Linked DNA regions of Homo sapiens. The protein of the gene in region 1 purifies or fractionates together with the protein of each later gene. This does not show direct contact. Each region holds a gene or a part of one and is shown in the gene's direction. Other genes may lie near its edges. The genes, in order: MYT1L, RRBP1, UBN2, POLR1E, MSANTD7, BEND3 and RORB.

Region 1 (3,500 bases):
GTCTCAGTCTCCCGAGTAGCTGGGATTACAGGCGCACGCCACCACGCCCAGCTAATTTTTGTATTTTTAGTAGAGACAGGGTTTAACCACGTTGGCCAGGCTGGTCTTGAATTCCTGACCTCAAGTGACCTGCCTGTCTTGGCCTCCCAAAATGCTGGGATTCCAGGCGTGAGCCACGGCGCCCGGCCCGAAGCCTTTCTCCTTCAGCGAGAGGCCCCTTCTTCGCACCCAGTAGACTGTGGCCCCCGGCAACGACCACGCGCTCCTAGGTCCTCCTGGTGTTACATGTCACGCACACTTGTGCGTTTCAGATTACCACGATGGAGAGCAACCTGAAGACCATCGAAGAGGAGAACAAAGTGATTGAGCAGCAGAACGAGTCTCTCCTCCACGAGCTGGCGAACCTGAGCCAGTCTCTGATCCACAGCCTGGCTAACATCCAGCTGCCGCACATGGTAAGTGACTGAGCACGCAAGGCAGGAATGTGGAGTCCTCCACAGCGCACAGCCTAAAGTAGATGCCGTTTTTATCGTTATTTTCATGGTTCTTCAGCCTTTGGCAAATGTTTGTGGTTACCACCCCGAAACCATACCATTAACTGCTAGAAACATGGGCGGGGCTGACCCCAGAAACTTAAGTGTGCTCTGAGCCGGCCTTTGAAATAGTATAAAACCAGGGGCACTATGCTATGATACTATTTTATGCTTTTGTAAATATACTATTAAGAAAATAAAAGTTGTATATGAACTACTATTTAATATCTCGTAGGATCCAATCAATGAACAAAATTTTGATGCTTACGTGACTACTTTGACGGAAATGTATACAAATCAAGATCGTTATCAGAGTCCAGAAAATAAAGCCCTACTGGAAAATATAAAGCAGGCTGTGAGAGGAATTCAGGTCTGAACAGCTGCTGTAGTGATGAAACTCTTGCTTAAAAAGGATGCCTCTTGTTTTTTGCTGCTGTAACTTACCAGAAAGTGTTCTATATTTATTTCTGTTTGAATTTGAAACAGTGTTATGCTTACAAGACTTCATAATGATTTTATGTCTTGCTTTAAAGATAGTACCTGCAGAATAGTTTTTGAATACACCCACATTTTGTACGTTTCCATGTAAGCTGACATAGTGTTCTGCCATGTAATGTTTATAGCTGCTGATGTATGCACATTTGGGGGTATATCTATTTCTGAAGAGGTAAGCTGATCAAAATAAATAGAGTGTAAATTCTTTTTAATGCTTTAGTGATTAAATGTTTTAGTATTTTGAACTGAAATGGACACACAAACACACACACGCACACACAGACCCACAGCTTTGAATGATCATGTTGTGGCTGAGCAGCCGCTTTTTAGACGTTATCATTTTGCCTCATGTTGGAGGACTTTATGGAATTTAAGAAATACATTTTGTGTGCATATTGTTTCATAGCAAGAATTCGTTGCAAAAATGCTTTATTTTTGAACAATGCTTGGAAATATTATGTGACTTTTTTGTTTGTTTGTTTTAGGAGGATGGTGTATGGTGGGGGCAATAAATGAGGTTTTTTGCATTCCAAGGAAATGGCATATGGATTAACTGTAAGAAATGAAATAAGTAATTTATTGTAAGACAACATCAAGCCATGGAAACTTGGCAGAAGATTCAAAGCAGCTTAAACAGCACTTTTAAATTAACTCCTAAGCGTTACATGGTTGTGACTATGGAAACTCCAGTTAAGACAGGATCTTATCAGAGGTGGACAACGTGAAGATTTCCTTTTCCATTTTCAATAAACTTTGGAACAACCTTCTCGTATCTCCCCTAGAGTTTCGTGCCCCTCTGAACTGTCTGTTATTGCAATGTAGTTTATCAACAGAATTTGTGTGTTTTCGATTTAAGCTAAAAGATAATTTAAGAACATTTATTTCCCCTTTTCACTTTAAAAAATTATGATTATTCCTATTATTGTTATGAACCTTCTTATTTTACATTTGAGGGATAAAGGCAAATGATTTGTGAGTCTTCTAGTTACTGGACCGAGTTTTCTGCTGGATCTGGTGGGAAGGCAGCTCGGTAAAGTTTCCCTCCTGCTCCCCCCGCCCGACTTTGACTCTGAATCAGCATTTGGTCCTATTCAGAGGACTCTTACCACGACGTTTCTGTTCTACACTTGGGTGGAGACCAGTTGACCATAGAGCATTTGCAGAGCCTCATTGTTTGATTTCTTGTGACTATTCTAAGAATGAATGCAATCAGATTTTAAAAGTAACTAAATATACTTCAGCACTTTTTTGCTTTAAACTAGATCATCTTAGACTTGTTTATACCTTCCAGATTTGATTGTTTTACTCCCAATGACTGCACTATATGTATGCATAAGACCACTTTTGAGCGCTGTGTTCCCCCTTCTGAGTAGTCCTTTGACGACGTGTTGTGTTTTCTGATGTTGACTTGAGTTCCATTTAGTAGCATCTCTTCCTTCCATGTCTTGATGTTATGCAGGAAGTACAGACGTACTTTAAATTTTTGTTATGAAATAAAAAAAAGATGGGTTTTGTAAAAATAAAAAAAAAATATTTTTAGCAGAACAGGACTTACAGGGTCATTGTCCCCACAATGTGCCAGTCGACTATTTGCACTTACCTTGTCCTATATATCCGTACGGAGGTGTGCAATTCCTCGTGTCAGTAGCCTTGTGACACTGAACCTGGATGGATTATAGAGGAGCCCTCACGGCTGATCAATAATGTTGCAAAGGGAGACTACAGGGATCTCACGACGAATATTCTGATACAATACTCAACCTCGGTATATATATATGTGTATAAATATATGTATATCCCAGCGGCACTTTATACTGTTCACTGTACAAAAGCTTACAGTTTTCCACAAGGACTTTAATAACTAGCTGGGAAAAGACGATGTAATTATTTCGGGGCTCTGCGGAACCTTCTCTGTACAGCGCCCCCTTTCTGTTGTGCTATTGGTTGCAGCTGCCATGCTCAGAATGCGTTTTGAGAGCTGAAGCAAGGTGCTTGCAGTCACCTGAGGCCGTCCGTGTGGCCCAGGGCCCCAGCTGCCTTTAGGGCCCCCATTGTTCATAACAGCATATGCATTTCCCCACCGCGTTGTGTCTGCAGCTTCTTTGCCAATATAGTAATGCTTTTAGTAGAGTACTAGATAGTATCAGTTTTGGATTCTTATTGTTATCACCTATGTACAATGGAAAGGGATTTTAAGCACAAACCTGCTGCTCATCTAACGTTGGTACATAATCTCAAATCAAAAGTTATCTGTGACTATTATATAGGGATCACAAAAGTGTCACATATTAGAATGCTGACCTTTCATATGGATTATTGTGAGTCATCAGAGTTTATTATAACTTATTGTTCATATTCATTTCTAAGTTAATTTAAGTAATCATTTATTAAGACAGAATTTTGTATAAACTATTTATTGTGCTCTCTGTGGAACTGAAGTTTGATTTATTTTTGTACTACACGGCATGGGTT
Region 2 (3,500 bases), on another chromosome or scaffold:
TTTTTAAGGTTCACTTTTTAGAATCAGATTCCACAACTGTGGTTTACATTTAGGCCTTAAAATAACCCTGTTCTAGGGGGTGGGAATGGTTGTCACCCATTCAGTGGATGAGAATGTGGAGGTCCAGCTGGTCAGAAGGTTGTCAGGCCAGTTCCTGTTGCCCAGTTGCTAGGCGATGTGGGCCCGGCCTTCCAAATGTTCCCTCCTGGCTATATACCTCCACCTTCCTGGGGCAATAATTACCCAAGGGAGGACACAGAACGTGAAGATCAAAATTAAGAGCTTCAGTGGCAGGAAGGTGGGGAGGCATTTTGAAAATCTGGCAGTGCTGAAGGTATTTTTCATTTCATTTTTTTCACCGAGGGTCTCCTGTGTGGTGGGCCTTCAAACACCGCAAGTGAGACCTAGTTCTTGCCTGAAAAAGCTACTGTCTAGAACTGTGTTGTCCAATACAGTAGCCACAAGTAGCAATTTAAGTTTAAAACAATTCAAATTAAGTAAAATTAAAAATTCAATTTCTGAGTCAAATTAGCCACATTTCAGGTGCTCAGTAGTCATAAGTTGGTCAGCGTGGCTGTAGATGGTTTCCACCATCACAGAAAGTTCTAGACAGTGCTGATGTAGAGGCAGCTGGTATTCTGTAAACATTCATGTCCCTGTTCCTCTTGATCATGTGGTAATATGTTGAACCACATGAAATTGCCCATTCTGTAGGTCAAAACCAGTTGACTAGTGGCAGTTGATACACTTCACCTGATAAGATCTCACCCTGAGAAAGCATTAGTCCCGCCTCTTTGTGTGCATTGTAAACTGCATTCCAAGAAAAAGGAGTGGGAGGGGGGCCACACAGATAGTGGCCCTTTCCTGGAGAGATTTTTTACCCAATGCCCTCAGCATCAAAATGGTGACTTGTAACAAAGACAGAAAATAAATTGATATTAGGTAGAAAGTGATGGCTTGTAAGGGAAGGTAAATATTTAATTTTAAGTGACAGTGCCTAGGCAAGGAGGCACTCTCACTTAGCATATAGAAAATTAGTTCAGGGGCCTCCTAGGAGACTTTTCTTAGGCAGACAAATTCTGGCCGAGTCTCCTGAAGCAGACAACCAGACACCCCCAAAACCAGACGTGTGTGTCCTTTATGTGCATTCAGTAACATGTGTCTTCCACCTGTCAACAATGGGCAGCAACTTTAACTTATCAAGAACATTTTGTGATTTCTAACTTAGATTTTTTTGGCAAGACTAGAATACCTGCCCAGTCCCGAAACCTTTTCAGTTCCAAAGTATTGGAGTTCCAGTGTTCTTGGGTGGCATAAATTGCTTCCTACACCAGTGACTATTTACACAGCTCTGTTATTCTCCATATAACTTTTTTTTCTTTTTCTTTTTTCTCTTTTTTTTTGAGACAAAGTTTCGCTCTTGTTGCCCAGGCTGGAGTCCAATGGCGTGATCTTGGTTTACTGCAACTTCTACCTCCCGGGTTCAAGTGATTCTTCTGCCTCAGCCTCCCAAGTAGCTGGGATTACAGGCATGCGCCACCACACCCGGCTAATTTTGTATTTTTAGTAGAGACGGGGTTTCACCATGTTAGTCAGGCTGGTCTAGAAGTCCTGACCTCAGGTGATCTGCCCTCCTCGGCCTCCCAAAGTGCTAGGATTATAGGCATGAGCCACCGTGCCCGGCCTCCATATAACTTCGAAAGGATCATTGGGCAGTACTGGGGAATAATTTTTGAATTCTTGGTTGTACTTGTGGGCTCATCTTAGTATTAGTACTCTGTAAAGAATAATATAAAACCAAAGTTTAACTTTAAAGGAAGAAGCTGAATGATGGACAGCTACTTGATCTCTTTCTGGTCAGAAAGGAGGCCCACTAAGACTACTGGAAGTTACAGACTATTTATAGTGATAATGAATATCATCTGCTGACTCAAAAGTTGGAATAAAAGACCATCTTGAATTCAAATCTTTAATTCTCTATCCTGGGCAAGGTATAAGCAAACAAGGTCTGTTAGGGTATAAGCAAACAAGGTCTGTTAGGCTGTCTTGAGAGGAATTCCAAACTGGTGCCCTGTGTGAGCTGAACTTGGCCTTCACATGGAATTTGTTTCACTGACCTCATGTTATTAAGCAATTGAGTCACCTTTTAAAAGTGGAATTTTTTTTTTTTTTTTCACTAAAATCTAGATTTTTTGGGCTGGGCACAGTGGCTAATCCCTGTAATCCCAGCACTTTGGGAGGCCAAGGCGGGTGGATCGCTTGAGCCCAGGAGTTTGAGACCAGCCTGGGCAACATGGCAAAACCCCATCTCTATAAAGAATGCAAAAACTAGCCAGGCATGGTGGCATGTGCCTGTAGTCCTGGCTACTCAGGTGGCTGAAGCAGGAGAATCATTTGAACCTGGAAGGTGGAGGTTGCAGTGAGCCAAGATCATACTACACTCCAGCCTAGGCGACAGAGTGAGACTCTGTCTCATAATAAAAAACAAAAACAAAATCTAGATTTTTGGGTTCTCTGGGGGAAAATGGGAATTTCTGGCTACACTAGGTTGACTTTCTTGTGTGGCAGCCGTGGACTGTGTTTGTCCTCTCTAAGCTGGGCCTGTGCTCTCAGTGCCCAGCATCCTACCCCAATATATGTTATGTGCTTGGGTATTGGCAGTCCCTCAGGGTGCTGGGGGCTGTCCGGTGTGACCGGACTAGTCATCAGCTTGTCCCACGGAGCTGCTGTGTGGAGCAGTGGGAGAAGCACTGGTTGGGTGTTCTGATCCCTGGAGTGAGTGAGTGACTTTGGACATGACTTCTCCTCCCTGGGCTTCAGTTTTCTCCCTCCTATAAAATGAAACTAGGCCAGCTAGCTCCACCTTTCAGGCCACAAACCTCGGTTTATCCTTAACTCCTCGCCGTCTCATACCTGTACCCTGTACGCAGCAGGTCCCATCAGCTCTACCTTCCAGACAGAGCCAGTGTGACCATTCTCACCACTTCTGCCTTCTCCCTGGTCCAAACAGCTCTTACCTTTTGATTTTTTATTTCTGAGAGGGTCTTGTTCTATCACCCAGGCTGGAGTACAGTGGCGCAATCACTGCTCACTGCAGTTACAACATTGCAGGCTCAGTTAATCCTCCTGCCTCAGCCTCCTGGGTAGCTGGTACCACAAGTGCATGCTACCACACCCAGTGAATTTTTAGGTTTTTTTGTAGAAATGGTGTCTTGCCACGTTGCCCAGGCTAGTCTTGAACTCCTGGGCTAAAGGAGTCCTCCTGCCTTGGCCACCCAAAGTGCCAGGATTGTAGGCGTGAGCCAGCATGCCCAGCCTGCTCTCACCTCTGCCCCGGGTTATTTCTCTAGCCTCTGGTGGGCTCCCTGCCTTTGCCTATACCCCCTGCCTTCTAGTCTGTTGCCAGAGCAGACCATGTCACTCCTCTGTTCAAGACCCTCCTTGGTCAAGGTCTCCAGTGGCCTCTCAGGGCACTTTCGCTCTAGCTTCACTCCTACCAT
Region 3 (3,500 bases), on another chromosome or scaffold:
GTCCAGGTCTGTGTAGCTCTAACTCTGTTCCCTTTCCGCCACCATCGAGAATGCTATTTTAATTCCTTTGGTATAGTAGTTCTGAAACCTTCCTGCCTCCTAAGAGTTTGAGAGTGAATGTGTGTACTTCTAAGCTCATTGCGTCAGACTCAGAACCAGCATGAGACTTCTTTGAAAGTGTCCGGTTTATGCTAAATATTCATGTACATTTTATATTCAGTGCCACAATATAGTGGTGTTTGTTTGAATACAAAAACAATTTTTAATTACCTGATTAAGTTGCTTAACATTTTTCTCAAATTTTCTAGTATTACTAAATTTGTAGAAAGCCCCACTCCTCACCCCACATTTACACTATGGCTTTGAGTACTCTTGGCACTTTACTAAAACATAACCCAGTTGAGAAGCAACACCTTACCCCTCTGATTCCTCTGTGAGCATTGAAAAGTATCCCACAGGAGAAAGGATATCAGCTCACATTGGCCTTGTCATTGAGGGCCTTGTACCCTCAAGATACAACAGGGATCTTGACCCATATGTGCTGGCTCCTTGTGGTAATTAAGAAACCATTTGAAGGTAGAAGAAGTAGATGAGAATAGATTGGAATTGGAATCAGGTCCTAGGCCATACTTTGCCATCTGCTAATTGTGTCCTTTTGGTGAGGTTTTTTAGCTTTGGGCCACAGTTTTCTTTTTCTCTCTTTTTTTCTAAGACAGAGTCTCTGTCACTCAGGCTGGAGTGCAGTGGTGTGATCTTGGCTCACTGTAACCTCCACCTCCTGGGTTCAAGCAATTCTTCTGCCTCAGCCACCTGAGTAGCTGGGATTACAGGCATGCACCACCATGCCTGGCTAATTTTTGTATTTTTAGTAGAGATGGTTTCACCATGTTGGCCCGGCTGGTCTCGAACTCCTGACCTCAACTGATCTGTCCACCTTGGCCTCCCAAAGAGCTGGGATTACAGGCGTGAGCCATTGGGCCTGGCCAAGGGTACAGTTTTCCTATCTATAAATTGAGAGGTTCAGATTTTTCCGAGACCCTATTGTTCTCTATTCTGTGACTATATAATAATAAATTTAGGGATAGACTGGTGGGTGTTTAAATAGAAGGAATAGCATTGTAGTATTTAATTACAGTGTAATCTTTTGAGACTATATTGTATCATGATGTATAAATTGTAAAATCCTATAGGATGTATAAATCCTAAAATCCTAGCATGTATAAATCCTAAAATACTGTGTTTTTTATACAAGTTATACATTGGTTACACTTAATGTTTTAACCAACTAGTACACTTATGTGGCTCAAAATTCAAAAATTAAAAATCTTCCTTTTATTGTATTGCCCACCCATGGAATCCCACTTCCTAGGCAAGTAACACTCCTGTGGTACTAGAGATACATCTCTATACATACACATCTATTCCTTTCCCACCCCCTTTTTATACATATTATAGAATTGTACACACTTAAGCTCTTTGCTTTTTATTTACTGTATCTTAGTATATTTGGGGGGGTCATATCAGGACAAAGTGCTTTCTCTCCCTTTTTTTTAAGGCTGCATGCTGTTTCATTGCATGGAACTATCACACTGTAACCAGTCCCCAAATGATTTAGGTTGCTTTCAAAAATTTGCCCTTATTAATAGTGCTGCAGTAAATTAGTCTGTAAAATGGCATTTTACACAATTTCAAGTTTATCTCTAGGAGAGATTCCTAGAATCAGACGATTCAGGTCGGAAGATTTATGCATTTATAATTTTAGTATATATTACTAAATTACCAGTTCTACTCCCTCCATCACTATATTAGAGTGTCTTTTTTTTTTTTTTTTTTTTTTTGAGGCAGAGTTTCACTCTTGTTGCCCAGGCTGGAGTGCAATGGCGCTATCTCGGCTCACTGCAACCTCCACTTCCCAGGTTCCAGCAGTTCTCCTGCCTCAACCTCCCAAGTAGCTGGGACTGCAGGCATGCACCACCATGCCCAGCTAATTTTTTGTATTTAGTAGAGATAGGGTTTCACCATGTTGGTCAGGCTGGTCTCGAACTCCTGATCTTAGGTAATCCACCGCCTTGGCCTCCCAAAATGTTGGGATTACAGGCGTGAGCCACTGCGCCCAGCCTAGAGTGTCTATTTTGCTGTGGGTTACAAAATCAAGGATTTTAGAATTGCCCTTTGCAAATGGAAAAATTCCTATATATAATCCTATAAGTAAAGTGATTCAGTATATGACGCACTACCTTAAAGTTAGCATTAAGTCTTCTTAGTCAACCCTAGGATAGTATCTGGCATAGAAAGATCAGCGTTCTGAAGAAGTTGTTTGATGCGTGAAATTGAGTTTCAATTGACTTAGATATATTTAAGCCTTGTTATTTTGTTTACAGTGATAAAATATTACTCTTGTTATAGTCTAAATTAATGGGCTATATTTCTTCTCTGGATTTTTATTTTGCTGACTTACTGTCTTATTTCCATTCTAATTAGAGATTGTATGTATATTAACCAAAAAGCATGCCCAAGTGTTATATCTATGAGTATTGTGTGTGTGTGTATATGTATATATATATTTATTTGGTAGAGACAGGGTCTTGTTGTGTTGCCTAGGCTGGTCTTAAACTCATGAGCCTAAGCAATCCACCTGCCTCAGCCTCCCAAAGTGCTGAGTTTACAGATATGAGCCACTGTACCCAGCCTAAATATATATATATATATATATATATATTTTTTTTTTTAAATAATTATTTGGAATCTTTTAAGAAAATCATCAGGCCAAAAGTGACCTGAGAGAAGATACATTGTCCTGCTGGGCGTTATATGCCTAGAGCTCTAGGCTATCACAAAATCTCTCTCTTAAACTACAATGATCTTTATTGGTGTTTGGGGCAGGTGTTGCAGCAGTTGAAGATCAGTGATATCAGAAATTACAGGGAGTATAAAATTGTAAAAAGAGCACCCTGCATTGAATTTATGGGGTTCCCCCCTCCATTGTGTCCTATTTTTATGGCCATGTTCTGTTTCCTGTTATGTTGTTCTTATGCTCAGGTAATGTGACAGTTCATATTCAGCATCAATTACTAAATGGTTTTTTGGGAAAAGGTCAATATGACTATTAAGTACCTATTTTTACCTAGATTATACTAAATTGGTTGTTGTACATAAATCTTTTTAAATAGCTAAGTCCAAGTTTTGACATTTCTACAACCGTATAGGCTCCAGATTCGTCTTGATGGTTAGAAAGGAGGCAGGATACAGGTAAAAGAGGCTCCCATGCCTCTCTTTATTCCCAGTTAAGGCTCCAAAATGTTTAGGCAAAACATCTTGGTTTCCAATTCAGTTTTTAGATAGTCTGTAGGTAATATATGCCTTTTATGAGGCCACCTATACTCTATACTCAGGAGTAGGATGCTTCAATTTGATGGGTATAGACTTGTTATCTTAGCCTTCTAGGACATAGGATAACCTATAATTGTTGGAAGATTTCTCTTAGTGATTTTTTTCTCACT
Region 4 (3,500 bases), on another chromosome or scaffold:
GATTTGGCTAATTTATTTTCCAAGTTCTTTAACTGTATACTAAAGCTGCATATTAAATATTCACAGTATACACTCATGTTAGGCTCAGGGAAGTCCTATAGTAAAGAAATCTATTATTCTTAGATAGACAAATGAATATTAAACACTATTACTATTTGTAGGCCTCCCAATTGACTTTTCTTTCTCTCTGTTTTTGTGTGTTTTGATAGATGTATCAGTTGAGAGTGAACTGGCGCTAGAGAGTCAGACCAAAACTTACAGAGAAAAGGTGAGTGTGATAGAATTAAGATGTGGGACCTTAAGCAAGTTCCTTCTACACCTCGGGTTTCTCCATCAGTGAAATGAGCTTGTTGAACTCAAGGGTCTCCCTGGCTGCTCCCCGCTCATTCAGTCTGTTTCTCTGGACAATTAGTTTGTACCTGCAGAAGCCTCCTTGGTCCCACAGAGAACAGTCTGGCTCCCATCTGGGGCAGCTGAACACAGCTCTGTGCCAATGTTTGGAGTCGGTTCTCTGGGCTGATACAAGTGTAGCATAATGCTTGTTTTTAGGATTTAGTCCAAGTTTTAGAATATATTGGTTGTAGCCTGAAAACATTCACGTTAAAACAAAGTAAACTTGGGGATTTTCAATGTAGAAGGTCCCTACAAAGGTCATCTCACCCCAAGATGACAAACTGATTGAATCTTTGGTGCTGTGTGGAGCACTGTATTGAGAAGGGTTGTGAGGCTACTTTTTGCTTCAGGGGGAAGGAGTCAGTGATCTATTAGCCCTGTCTGTTACGGGTGTAAGATGGGAGAATTACCATTCTACTATTCCTGTCTGTTACGGGCATAGGATGGGAGAATGGTAAGCCATGTGCTACAGATTTGCCAGCCCTAATCCTAGTCAAGTCTTTATATCTTACTGATGGAGATGCTGTTGATTGATCAATCTGTTAATATCATTTGGTGCTTACAGCAGTCCTGTGAGGTAAATAGGTGCGATTCAGCCTTATTCACAGGTGAGGTAGTGATCACTCTGGGATGCTGAGAGTATCCCCATAGTGACACAGCTAGGAGGGGCAGCACCTACCTGTCCTGTCCCCAGTAACCAGGTTTATCTCATAAACAGATGGATTCTTGTATTGAAGCCTTTGGTACCACCAAACAGAAGCGAGCTCTGAACACCAGGAGAATGAACAGAGTTGGCAATGAATCTTTGAATCGTGCAGTGGCTAAAGCTGCAGAGACTATCATTGATACGAAGGGTGTGACTGGTAAGAAGTTGGAACTTGGGCTAAGAGTCTGCCCATAATGACAGCTTTCTCTTCTCTTGAGATCTTTTACCCACCCACACATGGAATGCTGGGAGCTAGGGCTGGATTCCTTTCAGCCTCTTGCTGAAGGCCTTCTCACGGACAGGTTCTGGAAGTAGTAAGAAACATCCGACATGGCTTTGTCTTCTAGTGATCCACAGTCAAGTACAGGGACAGGCATGGAATGGATACATGCCTGCCGTGCTTATGGTGCTGGGGTTATGGCCTGCAGGGCACAGAGGAGGGAGAAGGCCTCAGGTCTCTCCTTGTGCGTTGCAGGGAAGCTTTGGTCAAAAAGGCTGATGTGTTGATGGAAATGAGCCTCCAGAGGTGGCATTTCACTTTGGGATCAGTGGCTCTGTTTCCGGTATTCAGCAGCTGGAGTATTTAATTGTATTATTTTAAAATGTATTTATTGTTCAAATACATTATAAGAACATAAGAGCAAGTTTGTGTAAGAGTAGCTTTTCTTTTTACCGATTTTGGAGATGAGGTCTTGCTATGTTGCCCAGGCTGATCTTGAACCCTTGGCTTCAAGCAGTCCTCCCGCCTCAGCCTCCCAGGTAGCTAGGATTATAGGCGCACACCACTGTGCCCTGGGCAGAGCAGTTTTTCTATTAAGAATGAAATTCTAGTAATTTTTGGAAAATCTTTCCATACCCTATGATTATATAGATTTCAACACTTTCACAAATTTATTTATTGATTGATTGGAGATGGGGTCTTGCTCTATCACCCAGACTAGAGTGCAGTGGTGCAGACATGGCTCACTGCAGCCATAACCTCCTGGGCTCAAGTGATCCTCCTACTTCAGCCTCCCAAGTGGCTGGGATCACAGATGTGTGCCACCATGCTCAGCTAATTTTTTTAGTTTTTTGGAGAGACAGGGTCTTGCCATGTTGCCTGGGCTGGTCTCAAACTTCTGGGCTCAAGCCATCCTCCCGCCTTGGCCTTCCAAAATGTTGAGGTTACAGGTGTGAGCCACCACACCTGGCTGCGGAGTTATTCTTGTGGGGCAGTTACAGTGTTATATTCTGAAAGTTTTGTTCCACCTACAATGTGTGGCAAGTTTTTCTAGAAGTTAAGCCATTAAAGGCTATTTTGGACGTCCCTCACTTTTAGTTTCTCTCATTTTATATTGTAAATGTTTATGTATTAGCACAGCTGTCAATCCCAACTCTATTGTAAGTTACCTGAGGGGAATCTTGTCACCTCCACCTTCTCCAGTGCCTAGCTTGTGTTTGTTCATGAGTGAACATGGCAGTCCTGAAGCAGTCAGCCTGATGGGGAGGCGAGGTCACTTTGGCAGAAGCATTTAGACTTGGGGTTTCTGGACCATTGGTGGTCTGAAGTGCACAGACTGAAAAGAATGTTGGGGAACTGGAAACAAACAGGGTGATACATGGATTGTTTCTTTATTGAAAAGCTCTGGTCAGCGATGCTATCCACAATGACTTGCAAGATGACTCCCTCTACCTTCCTCCCTGCTATGATGATGCAGCCAAGCCTGAAGACGTGTATAAATTTGAAGATCGTATCCTTCTTGCAGTAGAAAAGCTGCCTTATTTCACAAGTTGAGATGTTTGCACGTGTGTGCAGTCAGGTTCTCTGAGGGTGTCTGTGTTCTGTGACATTCACAAGAGCTCCATCCAAACCTTTGCAGTTGCTCAGTGCTCTTGCCAGGAGGTTAACTTGGCTTCCTCACTAGCTGAGGGACCGGCCCCTGGGATTCAAATCCATTCCTCAGCAAAATGCCAAATGCCCACAGCTTAGACCTGTGGGGCTCACTCTCCATGGAGAGTCAAAATAAGAGTTGAACCAGCCAAATGCCCAAAGTCTAGGGCAGACCACTTTTGTTGAAGGAAGGGTTGGAGCTTAGAATTTCACCACCCAAGGGGTCCGGTCAGAAGGAAAATGCCTGCAGTGGCTTTGTGATGAGAAAAAGCAGAAAAGCCTGGGCAGGGAATGGGCTCTGGGCTGGGAGTCGGAGAACTGAGTCACCAAGCTCTGCCCCTATGTGATCTGCCCTGTGTGATCTTTGGCTCTCTGAGCCTGTTTCCCTGTCTGTGAAATGCCACTGCTATGAGATGACCTAGCTAGTTGGATGTTTCTATTTTGGTTGGATTATATTCTTGACCTGTAACTAGTTCTTTCCCCTGCGGAGTATGAAGCTCTTCAGAGCCCATCTGAAGCTTTCAGGAACGT
Region 5 (3,097 bases), on another chromosome or scaffold:
TGAATCTTTCCTTTGCTGGTCTAACTTGACTGCTTCATGGAGTTTGAAATCTTAATTTTTAAAATCCCTGTGTGGCTCATTAGACGACTATAAGCACAACCTGTATTTGTACCTTAATCTCTTACATTTCCACTGCTGTGTATCTGACATATCTACTAGTAAGCACTGTTTTGTCAAACCGTCTTTCTCTCCTTCATTTTACTGGTTCTTAGTCTCCTATCAATATAAGGAAATAAGAAGTGCCAGGGAGCCGCCATTGTGTGTTACGGTTTATATCGATAATCTTCAATATAAAATACTGGCCATTTTATAAAATATTAAATATATGTAAATTCTTTGCATTTCATATTATTTGGGTCCCTTTATATGCCTAAATTACATCTTTAAGTTTCGGTTGCCATTGGAACATTGTGGAAACAATTCAGATTATATCAGTTTCCCATCCGCTTTTTAGCTGATTTCATTCTTTTCTGTTATTTTTTTGTCTAGTATGTTATACAGGGCAAGCCCTAGAAACGTTTCCTTTTGAGGAGCTTTCCAAGATTCCTTTTCCTCAGATGTTGTAGACAGAAGTTTATGTAGTTAATGGCATCTGGTGGAAGAGAACAGCTTTGTTTCCTCTTTAACTTTGGGAACACTAGAGGATGGTGTGGATAAAGATTGCCTGCAATAGATGACTCCTTTTAAGCACTAGCCGTGAACAGATGAGCCTCCTCCACACCCCAGACACACACTGGGGAGAGATGAAGGTGATAAGCCACACTTCCGATTTACTCTAGAAGGGAAGACATTACTCTCTGTCATTAAACTAACTTAAAGCTTTTAGTGATTTACTTAGTACTTTTAGGAATACAAATAGGAATCTTTAGGATTTAAAAAGTTTTCCAATAATCTAGAAGTTGGAAAAATAACAAAGAGTGGGCATGTTGGGGGAGGTTTTATTTTCTATCTTGCAGGCTCGAGTGCTTAGCTAAATGCTGGAAATGGACATAGGTGGAGAAATGGTCAGAGCAGCAGTGGGAGCGTACCCAGAACCATGAGTAGACGGCAAGCGAGCTGCTCTGCCAAGCCAGGGATGGAGGTGTGAGGCGGCTGGTGTGGTAGAATATGTTGGAATCTAGTTAGAATTCCTGGATTGGAATCCTGTCACAGTTTGTTTCATCAGACAAATCACTTGCCCTTTTCTATTATTATTATTTTTTTTTTTTTGAGAAAAAGTCTCACTGTTTTGCCCAGGCTGGGGTGCAGTGGTGCAATCTTGGCTCACTGCAACCTCAGCCTCCCGAGTAGCCGGGATTACAGGTGCATGCCAACATGCCCAACTCATTTTTGTATTTTTAGTAGAGACGGGGTTTCACCATGTTGGCCAGGCTAGTCTTGAACTCCTGACCTCAGGTGATCCACCTGCCTCGGCCTCCCAAAGTGCTGAGATTACAGGCGTGAGCCACCGTGCCCAGCCAATTCATGCCTCAATTTCTTTATCTCCGGATTGAGGGATTTGTATTAGATTTTTTTTTTCCTAGTACCTTCCAGCTCTAAAAAAATTTGAAATAGCATAATAAAAGACAAAATGAAAACGAAATTTTAATTGTAATATTTTCTGTCACAGCAGCATATGTATATTTGAAATACTGGTAACAATTTTAAGGTAGCATTCTGTGGTATTAATATTTATTAATATGCTCATGAACTTCTAAGTGCCACACCAGACATATAGACTCTTTACTTTAAAAGAGCATATATTTAAGGCATTGAAATGGATACAGCTATATTCATTCTCAATTGTCTTAGGCTATTATATGGAAAGATATGTGTCAATTATAGGTAGGTAGGTAGGTAGGTAGATTTTCTGGAAACACAGAAGTACTTGACGGAGAGTTAGGCCTGTATTCTATAAATCTATTAATGGTAGCAAAGTGCATAAGACAGGGATTTCTTTGAGATGAAAGGAGTGCTGAAGAAGAGCATTGGAATTAATATTTGGATGTGGTATTGTGAAATTCAATGGGTAAAGTAACCCTAATGTGGGAATAAAAGTCAAGGGAAAGGTCTTGAATAAGTACACAGAAAAATAGGCTAAAAATATTAAGGGGAGGGAAATTGGAATACAGGGAGACAGTGTGCAAGAAAGCAAGCCAGGAATCTGCCTATGTGGTAGACCCAACCATTACTACTTGAACCCCCTTAGAAAAGCTTTTCCAGCATTCCATAACTCAGGTTCCTCATTTATAAAGTGGGAAACTCATAATTGTCCTACCTACCTCACAGGGGTGTTGTGAGGATCAAAGGAACAGATGAATGTATGAGCACTTTCAGACATGTAAGGCACTGTCATGTAACAAGTAGGGGAAAGACTCTGGAGCACATTAGTGCTGGTGTGTGCCAAGCCCGTGGGCTGTTGACCGTAAGGGATATTCAAGTAGGAGGAGGAAGAGAAGATGGCATTGCTAATAAAGGTTGTGATACACAACCATAGGATTAACTGCCTCCTCAAGTCCATCATGTAAATAAGGTGCTATGTATACCAACTTCTCACCACCTTTGTTTTTCTGTTCGGTAATCCTGGTGTGGACAAATAAAGTTTTCACTTGTATGTAGTTGTGGGTCAGTCCACTACTTTGTGATGATGTCTGTGGTCCTTTGTTGCCTCCATTCTCTGCTTTGCTTTCTCCTCTGCTAAGGGTCTTGCATGTCTGCAGCCCTCGGAGCTATATGTGCTTTCTGTCTTCAGAGGAGAGCGGCCCTCTTTATAAAGCAGTTGAGAAATAATTTTCCATTTCTTAAGAGTTCTGTAAATTCTGTAAAATATCCTTCCTGGCAAATTCTCTTGTCTGGGTGGTAGACAACCTACGCACAACAGTATAAATTGTTCTGGTTGACTTAAATTCTAAAGAAAACAGAACTAGTAAGTGTCATGCTGAAATTCTAATATTGGTGCAAAACCCGCTATGAGCACACTTTATCTATTTTTCCTATTCTTAAAGTGTTTGGGATATAGTTAATATTAAATACTGAGTTTAGGAAAAGGAAGAAGCAAAGAGTTTAATGGAAAGAATACTAAACTTTGTATTGAAGTTCTGAATGCCAGCCAGTTATG
Region 6 (3,994 bases), on another chromosome or scaffold:
CTGACTTCACTAAACCAGTAATCCAAATACAGCTCGAGAATGTTCCACGTAGTTCCTCAAACTTAACCCTGTGCCTTTTGATTTCAAGCCCGAAGGGGGGGAACTTGCATAATTACTAAATTCCCAATTGGAGTGGTCTGAAGGAGGGTACGGTAAACCCAAACTATACGTTAATTCAAACCCTCGCCGCGACTGGGCAGCAAGGAGCCAACATATGCCTTCTTTTAAAAATCTATTCTACCTATTCACTGACCGCGCAGGGCCGTGCCACATGGTCCTCCCTTGCAGCCAGTCAGCTGTGAGCAGCAGATGGGATCATTTGCATTTTTCTTTTTATACTTTCTTTGATCGGCAAATTAAAGGATTTTTCTTAAATTTACATTCTCATTGTTTGCCTAAAATACAAACGTGGCTAAACTGTTGAATTGGGCTTCCCTGACTCTCACCCAGCACCTCCCCCTCCCCCTACCCAGCCACTGAGACTTGAGAAAATACCCGAGGGGTAGATTTCGTATTTATCAACTGGGAATCTACAGTCCAAGAGTTAGGAGTAGACAGAATCAGCCTTTATTGAGTTGGTGACTCGTGTTTTTCTATTTTAGGCGCTCGGCGCAGACAGCCCGTGGGTTTGTGTTTGTGGGGTGTGTGTCTGTGAGCGCGGGCGCTTCCGAAGCTCTCGCTCCGCAGCCTCACACCCCAGAACTTCGGGTTGCAAGAGCAGATTTTAGCTCTGAGGCTCACAACAGAGGGCGGCCACCGTGCAGGGGGAGTGGCCAGAGCCAGCTTTTCCCAGCGCCAGGGTCGCTCTCCCGGGTCCCGCCGGACTCCATGCCGCCCCGCGGGGCCGCAGGAGCCACCCGGGCCCTCGCGCCCCAAGGTCTTTGTGCCGGTGGCGGCGCGGGAAGACCGGCCCCGGGGGCCTGGGCTGCGGCCCAAAGGCCAAAAATGCGGGAGAGGCGTGGGCGCGAGGCGGGACAAGCTCCGCACAGTCGCCGTCCCGCAAGGGGCAAAAAAGTAGAAAAAGCCGTTTGGGGCCAAACTCTCGGGTCTGAGAAACCACGTTTCCGAGGACGAACTCGCGGTGGGAGGACACATGGGGTACAGGGGACATTGTTCGCGGCGCCTGCCCGGCGCGCCGTGGGTGCGCGGCCGCCGCCCCCGCCCCGGGCAGCCAGCGCGGGCCCACGTGGAGCCACTGCGCTGGCCGAGCGCGCCGGGCCGCCTGGGTCCCGGGAGTGCGCGCCCGAGCTCCCCGCCGCGGCCGTTCACGCCCGAGCGCCGCCGCCGCCGGTCCCGCGTGTGCCCCGCTGAGGGGGAGGGGCGGGCCGGGGGTGGGGGCGGAGGGGTTGTGGTTCCACTGCAGCGGGGGCTCCTGTGTCCTTGTGCGGAAATGACACACGGAGTCCCGTCACGTCACGCGAGAGCGCAGCGCACGGACACACACAAAGAGAGGGGAAAATACACGGCGCTCGCCCGCCCGCCGCCCCCAGCGCCTCCCCGGGCCGCCCTGGCCAGGCCCTCCGCGCGCGGCCCCCACTCCCCGGCCCCGCGCCCTCCCCCCCACGTGGCGCCCAAACTCGGCGCGGGCCCGCCCGGCAAAGTACAGAACTCGCGTCCCAGGTAAGTGCGGGGCGGATCAAGCCGGCCGCGCGGCGGCGGCAGCGTTGGCGGCTCCGGGGCGAGCGGCCGGTAGAGTGGCTGCAACATCCATGCCGGGGTGGGGGCGGGAGCAGGGGAGGGGACGCGGAGGGGGGCTGCTCCGAGCGCGCCCGCCGGTAGTAGCGCCCACCCCCGCGCGGGCCGAGCGACCGGAGCGGGCGCCGGGCGCCCACGGGCTCGCCGCGCCCATTGTGCTGCGCGCCCCTTTGTGCCCGCTCGGAACGCGGCGGCTCCATGGCGTTCTGGGGAGCACGCGCGCCGCGCGGGGGCGGGGGGTTCGCGCGGTGGAACCGTCCGCGCCGCCGCCGCCGCCCGCCCCACTCGCGCCGCGCGCCGGCCCCGCACCCCCGCCGGGCGCCGCGATGGAGCGGCCGGGGCGGCCGGAAGGCTCTGCCGTACTCGCGGCGGCTTGGCGCTCGCGCTCGGCGGGGCTTTGGCGGGGCACTGCTCGGCGTGTGGAAGGGGGTGTCGGAGCGGGAGCAGGGGGCGGGGACTGGAGGGAGATGCCGGGCGGCGAGCGGGAGGCCGGGGGAGCAGCCGCTCGGAGGAACGAAGCCTCCGGAGGCTGCAAATGGAGCGAGGCCGGCCCGCGGCGGCGGCGGCCGGGAGCGGAGAGGGATGGGCCCCGCCGCCAGGGGGCGCAGCGCTCCCTTCCCGGCCGTTCCACGGCGGTTCGCGGTTCCCGCTGCCCAGGAGCTGGAGGCGGGCCCGGCGCCTTGGGTGTGCACCCGGGCTGGCGCGAGGCCTGGCCGGCCGGCCGCAAAGCTGAAGCCTGGGGCGCTCGCCGCTCCTCGTGAGCGCTCCTTTCCTTCTCTATGATAAACGTGATTTCCCACGCATGCTTTGCCCTTGCCTCATCCGTGAGCTGTGCACCACCGATTTGGAGGCCCTTGTGTGCTTGTTTACCTACGTCTCCCTATGTAGCTATTTTAAACAAGGTGTTTTTACAGAGATAAAAGTTTTATTGATTGCTCAGGTGGTCTTTCTGGAAGAATTCTGCACGTAAACGCTAACTCGACAAGAGTGCCGGGAGGAACAAGGTTACTCACTAGAGTTGGAAATGTGCAGTTCATCTCCTTAAAGTAACTTTTGAATGGTTGAATACAAATAGTAAACATGCCACAGGGCAGCGTGGCATAGTGCCAGAAAGCTACGGTTGCAGGAAACTGAGGTAAGGAACTGAGTCCTTCAGGTAGCCAGGTATATAAACGGCTGGGATGGAGGACTTTCTCTTGTTACCCGCTCCCCACTTCCACCCTTGCAGTCCGTTTTTCTCTCTTTTTTTTTTAAACCATTCATCCCTAGATATTGGCTTTATACTACCATACAAGAGCCTGTCAAGCTTTCCTCGGTACTGGGACTTGGGCAAGATTTTTTATCTCCCTCACAGTTTCACATCCCCAGCCTCTAACCCGGTGTCTCATAACTTAGTAGGCGTTCAGTGCGTATTTCCTAAATGAATGGAGAGAGCCTCTTGGATTCTAGAGGAAAGATGGAGCCAGAGCGCCAGTTGCTGCTGCTGGGTTAGCTGGTGTCTGTGTGGCCCTTGAAATCTGTCACATCAACCTCCTGTCATGGAACATGAGTTTTTTTTTTGTTTTTTTTTTTTTTTTGAGACGGAGTCTCGCTCTGTCACCCGGGCTGGAGTGCAGTGGCTTGATCTCTGCTCACTGCAACGTCTGCCTCCCGGGTTCAAGCGATTTTCCTGCCTCAGCCTCACGGAGTAGCTGGGATTACAGTCCATGTGCCACCATGCCTTGCTAATGTTTGTATTTGTAGTAGAGACGGAGTTTCACCATGTTGCCCAGGCTGGTTTCCGGACCTCAGGTGATCTGCCTGCCTGGCCTCCCAAAGTGTTGGGATCACAGGCATGAGCCACCGTGCTTTTTTTTTTTAGACAGAGTCTCGCTCTATCACCAGGCTGTAGTGCAGTGGCGTGATCTCTTCTCGCTGCAACTTCCGCCTCCCAGGTTCAAGGGATTTTCCTGCCACAGCCTCCCGAGTAGCTGGGACTACAGGCGCGTGCCACCACTCCCGGCTAATTTTTTGTATTTTTAATAGAGACGGGCTTTCACCGTGTTAGCCAGGATGGTCTCAATCTCCTGACCTCATGATCCGCTCACCTTGGCCTCCCAAAATGTTGGGATTACAGGCGTGAGCCACCGCGCCCAGCCTTTCTTTTTTTTTTTTTTTTCTTGAGACAGAGTTTTGCTCTTGTTGCCCAGGCTGGATTGCAATGGTCTGATCTTGGCTCACCGCAACCTCTGCCTCCTGGGTTCAAGTGATTCTCCTGCCTCAGCCTCCCAAGTAACTGGGATTATAGGCGCGCGCCACC
Region 7 (3,500 bases), on another chromosome or scaffold:
ACTATGGGGCAAAAGCCCATTTCTCCAAAACATGGGAAGCTATGCAGCAGTATTTCCTCAGGATGTTAATAATGCTCAAAGGGAAAAACAGTGGTAGTAAACAAATTCATTCAATAAATATTTGCTTAGCACCTACTATGTGCCAGAAACTTTTCTTGGTCCTGGAGATGCAAGAGTGAATACAGTAATCATGGCTGCCTATCACTGCAGACAAAATTTCTGCCCTCATTTCCTCAATTGTGAATTCAGGAATCAAAACTAGCTTTAATATTAGTGGAAAAATAGAGAAAAATGTATTTTCAAAAAGTAATGTCCAGCTTAGCCACCTGTAAAATATATTTTCTCCTTAATTCCTCATATAAGTATCAAGAAAACTTTATTTCTAATATATTAAATTGGTGCAAATATATTAGGTTTTTGCCAATACTTTCAATGGCAAAAACTGCAATTATTTTTGCACCAACCTAATAGTTATTTTAGGGGAAGGAACTTAAGGGATTTCTGTATGTGTGTGCCTGTGTGTGTGTGTATGTGTCTCTCTGTGTGTTTTAAAGTTCTTGAAAGTCTCTTACCTATATGCAGTAATAATTTCTTTATTATTGGATATATATGTGTATTTTTATTTTATTTTTATTTTTATTTTTTACTCATAGGTTGCTTGGAAGTGGTTTTAGTGAGAATGTGCCGTGCCTTCAACCCATTAAACAACACTGTTCTGTTTGAAGGAAAATATGGAGGAATGCAAATGTTCAAAGCCTTAGGTAAGTTTCCCTTTGATGAGGACACAATTTTATTAGCCACCATCAGTTTCTCCACTTAGATTGAAATTGGTAAATGAAATGCCTTGATTCTTTGATGTGAACCAGTATCTCATTATTCGATAAGCGATGGACCAGGTGAGCTTCTAATTCAGGCAAGCCTCTCCTGATCTTGTAACTGTGGCCTCCAATACAAAAGAAAGAGAGAACTGAGGACCCTCCTGAGAACAACCCTATTGAGACATCGTTCATTCAGAAATAAATGGAGGCCCAGCGTGGTGGCTCATGCGTATAATCCTAGAACTTTGGGAGGCCAAGGGGCGCAGATCACTTGAGCCCCAGAGTTCAAGACCAGCATGGGCAACATGGCCAAACCCCATCTCTACAAAAAGTACAAAAATTAGCTGGGCATCACCAGGTGTGGTGGCTCATGCCTGTAATCCCAGCACTTTGGGAGGCTGAGGCAGGTGGATCTCTTGAGGTCAGGAGTTCTAGACCAGCCTGGCCAACATGGTGAAAGCCAGTCTCTTGCAAAAATACAAAAATTAGCCACGCATGGTGGCTGACGCCTGTAATCCCAGCTACTCAGGAGGCTGAGGCAAGAGAATCGCTTGAATGTGGGAGGTGGAGGTTGCAGTGAGCTGAGATAGTTCCACTGCACTCCAGCTTGGGCAACAGAGCAAGACTCCATCTCAAATAAATAAAATAAATAAATAAAATTAGCTGGGCATGGTGACACACACCTGTAGTCCCAGCTACTTGGGAGGCTGAGGCAGGAAGATTGCTTGACCCTGGGAGATTGAGGCTACAGTGAGTCATCTTCACACCACTGCACTACAGCCTGGGTGACAAAGCGAGACCCTGTTAAAAAAAAAAAAGGAAAGAAATAAGAAATAACCGGAGGCTGATGCTAAAAGAGTAAAAGAGCTGGGCTGAATTATAGATCATTCTTTGTGAAATCAGCTTTTTTTTTTCAACTTTATTGCATATTGCATAGACCCCTGGTCATCCATGGTGGTGACCTCTTGCGTTTCTTATGTCAATTTATCATCATGAGTTAAGATACTTAATTAAATGAGGAGCTCCTCTACTTGTTTCTCACCCACAGAAGTTAATTCACAAAGTTCTGGGAGCACAGAGTTCATGCCAACCTGTCCACAGTGATCCCAGACCATTCCTGTGGGAAGGCACTAACAGAGTCAGTCTTTGTTTGGAAGTGTTATATATCATCACATCCAGTCATCAGTGCATGGCATGGTAGGAAGAACATTAGCAAAGATGGGCTGATGCCAGGAAAGGTTTTAACGATTGATAGTGCCATTTGTTCCATATCCTGCCCATGGACACCAAAGAAGGCCACTGCCCTTTCACCTCTTGTGCTGTTAGTTGATATGGCAGCCAACAACAAGTCCATCGGGGCTGGCAATGTTTCCCTTCTACAGTTGATACACATCCATGTCATCTCCAAGGCTAGATTTTCAAGAAAGGAGGAAAAGCCTTGGCAAGCAACCTCAGTATATTTCCAGCTTCATCAAATAAACATTCACCAGGGATCAGTGTAGAGATGCAACATTATTTTGCCAAAATACGCAACAGCTAAGCAACTGACCTGTGAGTCATTCATTAGAAGGTAATAATAAATAAACTCTAGCTCCTCAGTGAAATTTCCAAGGAAATTGCGAAACTGAAGTGCATCTCATCTCTGTTCCATTAGATATTTCTAACGTCTCAGTTTAAAAGTCCAGAATACCCTACATTGCTAGCTTCAAGTGTTACGAAGACTGACAATCCTCAGCCCCTGTATGTAATGTTTTAGGTTTTCTATGAATACTATCTCTATTGTAAAGGATCCCCAAATCACTTATTTTATATTCTTTAATGTGAAATCATTTCAAATTTATAAGGATGTAATCATATTATGGATTGCCAGACAGATGTGACACCACTCACACACCAAGTCTACTTGCTTGCCATTGGTAGGTAATGTTAACTTGGATTGCCTGGCCAAGATGTTGCCCAATTTTCTCATTCTTTGATTAGTATCAAATCACTTTTTATAATTAGAAACTTAAAAAAATATCTTTTCTAGAAGTCTAGTATGCACCTCCTTGGATAGCTTATTGATTATGAGATTTTTCTTACTCTTGCCCCATTTCAAGTTCAAGTATTTTTATTCCATTTTTCTTCTTCCTTTATAGGTTCTGATGACCTAGTGAATGAAGCATTTGACTTTGCAAAGAATTTGTGTTCCTTGCAGCTGACCGAGGAGGAGATCGCTTTGTTCTCATCTGCTGTTCTGATATCTCCAGGTAGGGCAGTCTCAGTTCTCTTACCTTTTTAAAAAACTTGTTTTACTATTTTTAACACTGATGACACCTGCCTAAGCCAAAGTGTTCAGGAGAAACTTTAACAGAGCTATATTTTCTTTACCAAGTTTTTGATATTTTTGGACAGTGAAAAGGGAAGTAGCCTCAAGTTTATTAAAATGACCAATTTTGGCCCGAAAGCAAGAGTAGAGCATAGGTTAGGGGTTATTCCAGATTCAGATACGCAGAATCATTCCTTAGCAAATAAAGGAAGACAAATAGTGGCCTGAGTTACAGCCAAGTTCTATTTTGACTTTAAGAATAAAGTACATAGAAAATAAATGTCCAGTTGGATGAGACACAGTAGAAATGTACCTAAATGAAAGCTCCAGAATGGGGACCTACATAAGTAAAAGGAACACTTTCTACTCTTTAA

The links.
Region 2: the proteins of MYT1L (region 1) and RRBP1 purify together in Homo sapiens (affinity purification with mass spectrometry, with the first as the bait; one large-scale study listed by BioGRID). This does not show direct contact.
Region 3: the proteins of MYT1L (region 1) and UBN2 purify together in Homo sapiens (affinity purification with mass spectrometry, with the first as the bait; one large-scale study listed by BioGRID). This does not show direct contact.
Region 4: the proteins of MYT1L (region 1) and POLR1E purify together in Homo sapiens (affinity purification with mass spectrometry, with the first as the bait; one large-scale study listed by BioGRID). This does not show direct contact.
Region 5: the proteins of MYT1L (region 1) and MSANTD7 purify together in Homo sapiens (affinity purification with mass spectrometry, with the first as the bait; one large-scale study listed by BioGRID). This does not show direct contact.
Region 6: the proteins of MYT1L (region 1) and BEND3 purify together in Homo sapiens (affinity purification with mass spectrometry, with the first as the bait; one large-scale study listed by BioGRID). This does not show direct contact.
Region 7: the proteins of MYT1L (region 1) and RORB purify together in Homo sapiens (affinity purification with mass spectrometry, with the first as the bait; one large-scale study listed by BioGRID). This does not show direct contact.

The regions. Positions count from the first base shown.
Region 1 is NC_000002.12:1,789,276-1,792,775, reverse strand, and holds part of MYT1L (myelin transcription factor 1-like protein), read left to right. Parts: intron 1-311; coding exon 312-455; coding exon of another isoform or gene 456-467; exon of another isoform or gene 468-768; coding exon 769-909; 3' UTR 910-1,513; coding exon of another isoform or gene 1,514-1,540; 3' UTR 1,541-3,500. UniProt on the Homo sapiens protein: Transcription factor that plays a key role in neuronal differentiation by specifically repressing expression of non-neuronal genes during neuron differentiation.
Region 2 is NC_000020.11:17,675,743-17,679,242, reverse strand, and holds part of RRBP1 (ribosome-binding protein 1), read left to right. Parts: intron 1-3,500. UniProt on the Homo sapiens protein: Acts as a ribosome receptor and mediates interaction between the ribosome and the endoplasmic reticulum membrane.
Region 3 is NC_000007.14:139,237,737-139,241,236, forward strand, and holds part of UBN2 (ubinuclein-2), read left to right. Parts: intron 1-3,500.
Region 4 is NC_000009.12:37,492,448-37,495,947, forward strand, and holds part of POLR1E (DNA-directed RNA polymerase I subunit RPA49), read left to right. Parts: intron 1-209; coding exon 210-268; intron 269-1,111; coding exon 1,112-1,256; intron 1,257-2,721; coding exon 2,722-2,829; intron 2,830-3,442; coding exon 3,443-3,500. UniProt on the Homo sapiens protein: Component of RNA polymerase I (Pol I), a DNA-dependent RNA polymerase which synthesizes ribosomal RNA precursors using the four ribonucleoside triphosphates as substrates.
Region 5 is NC_000010.11:14,844,403-14,847,499, forward strand, and holds the end of MSANTD7 (zinc finger and SCAN domain containing 29), read left to right. Parts: 3' UTR 1-2,597; downstream 2,598-3,097.
Region 6 is NC_000006.12:107,112,716-107,116,709, reverse strand, and holds the start of BEND3 (BEN domain-containing protein 3), read left to right. Parts: upstream 1-1,194; 5' UTR 1,195-1,620; intron 1,621-2,277; exon of another isoform or gene 2,278-2,830; intron 2,831-3,994. UniProt on the Homo sapiens protein: Transcriptional repressor which associates with the NoRC (nucleolar remodeling complex) complex and plays a key role in repressing rDNA transcription.
Region 7 is NC_000009.12:74,664,835-74,668,334, forward strand, and holds part of RORB (nuclear receptor ROR-beta), read left to right. Parts: intron 1-653; coding exon 654-761; intron 762-2,956; coding exon 2,957-3,067; intron 3,068-3,500. UniProt on the Homo sapiens protein: Nuclear receptor that binds DNA as a monomer to ROR response elements (RORE) containing a single core motif half-site 5'-AGGTCA-3' preceded by a short A-T-rich sequence.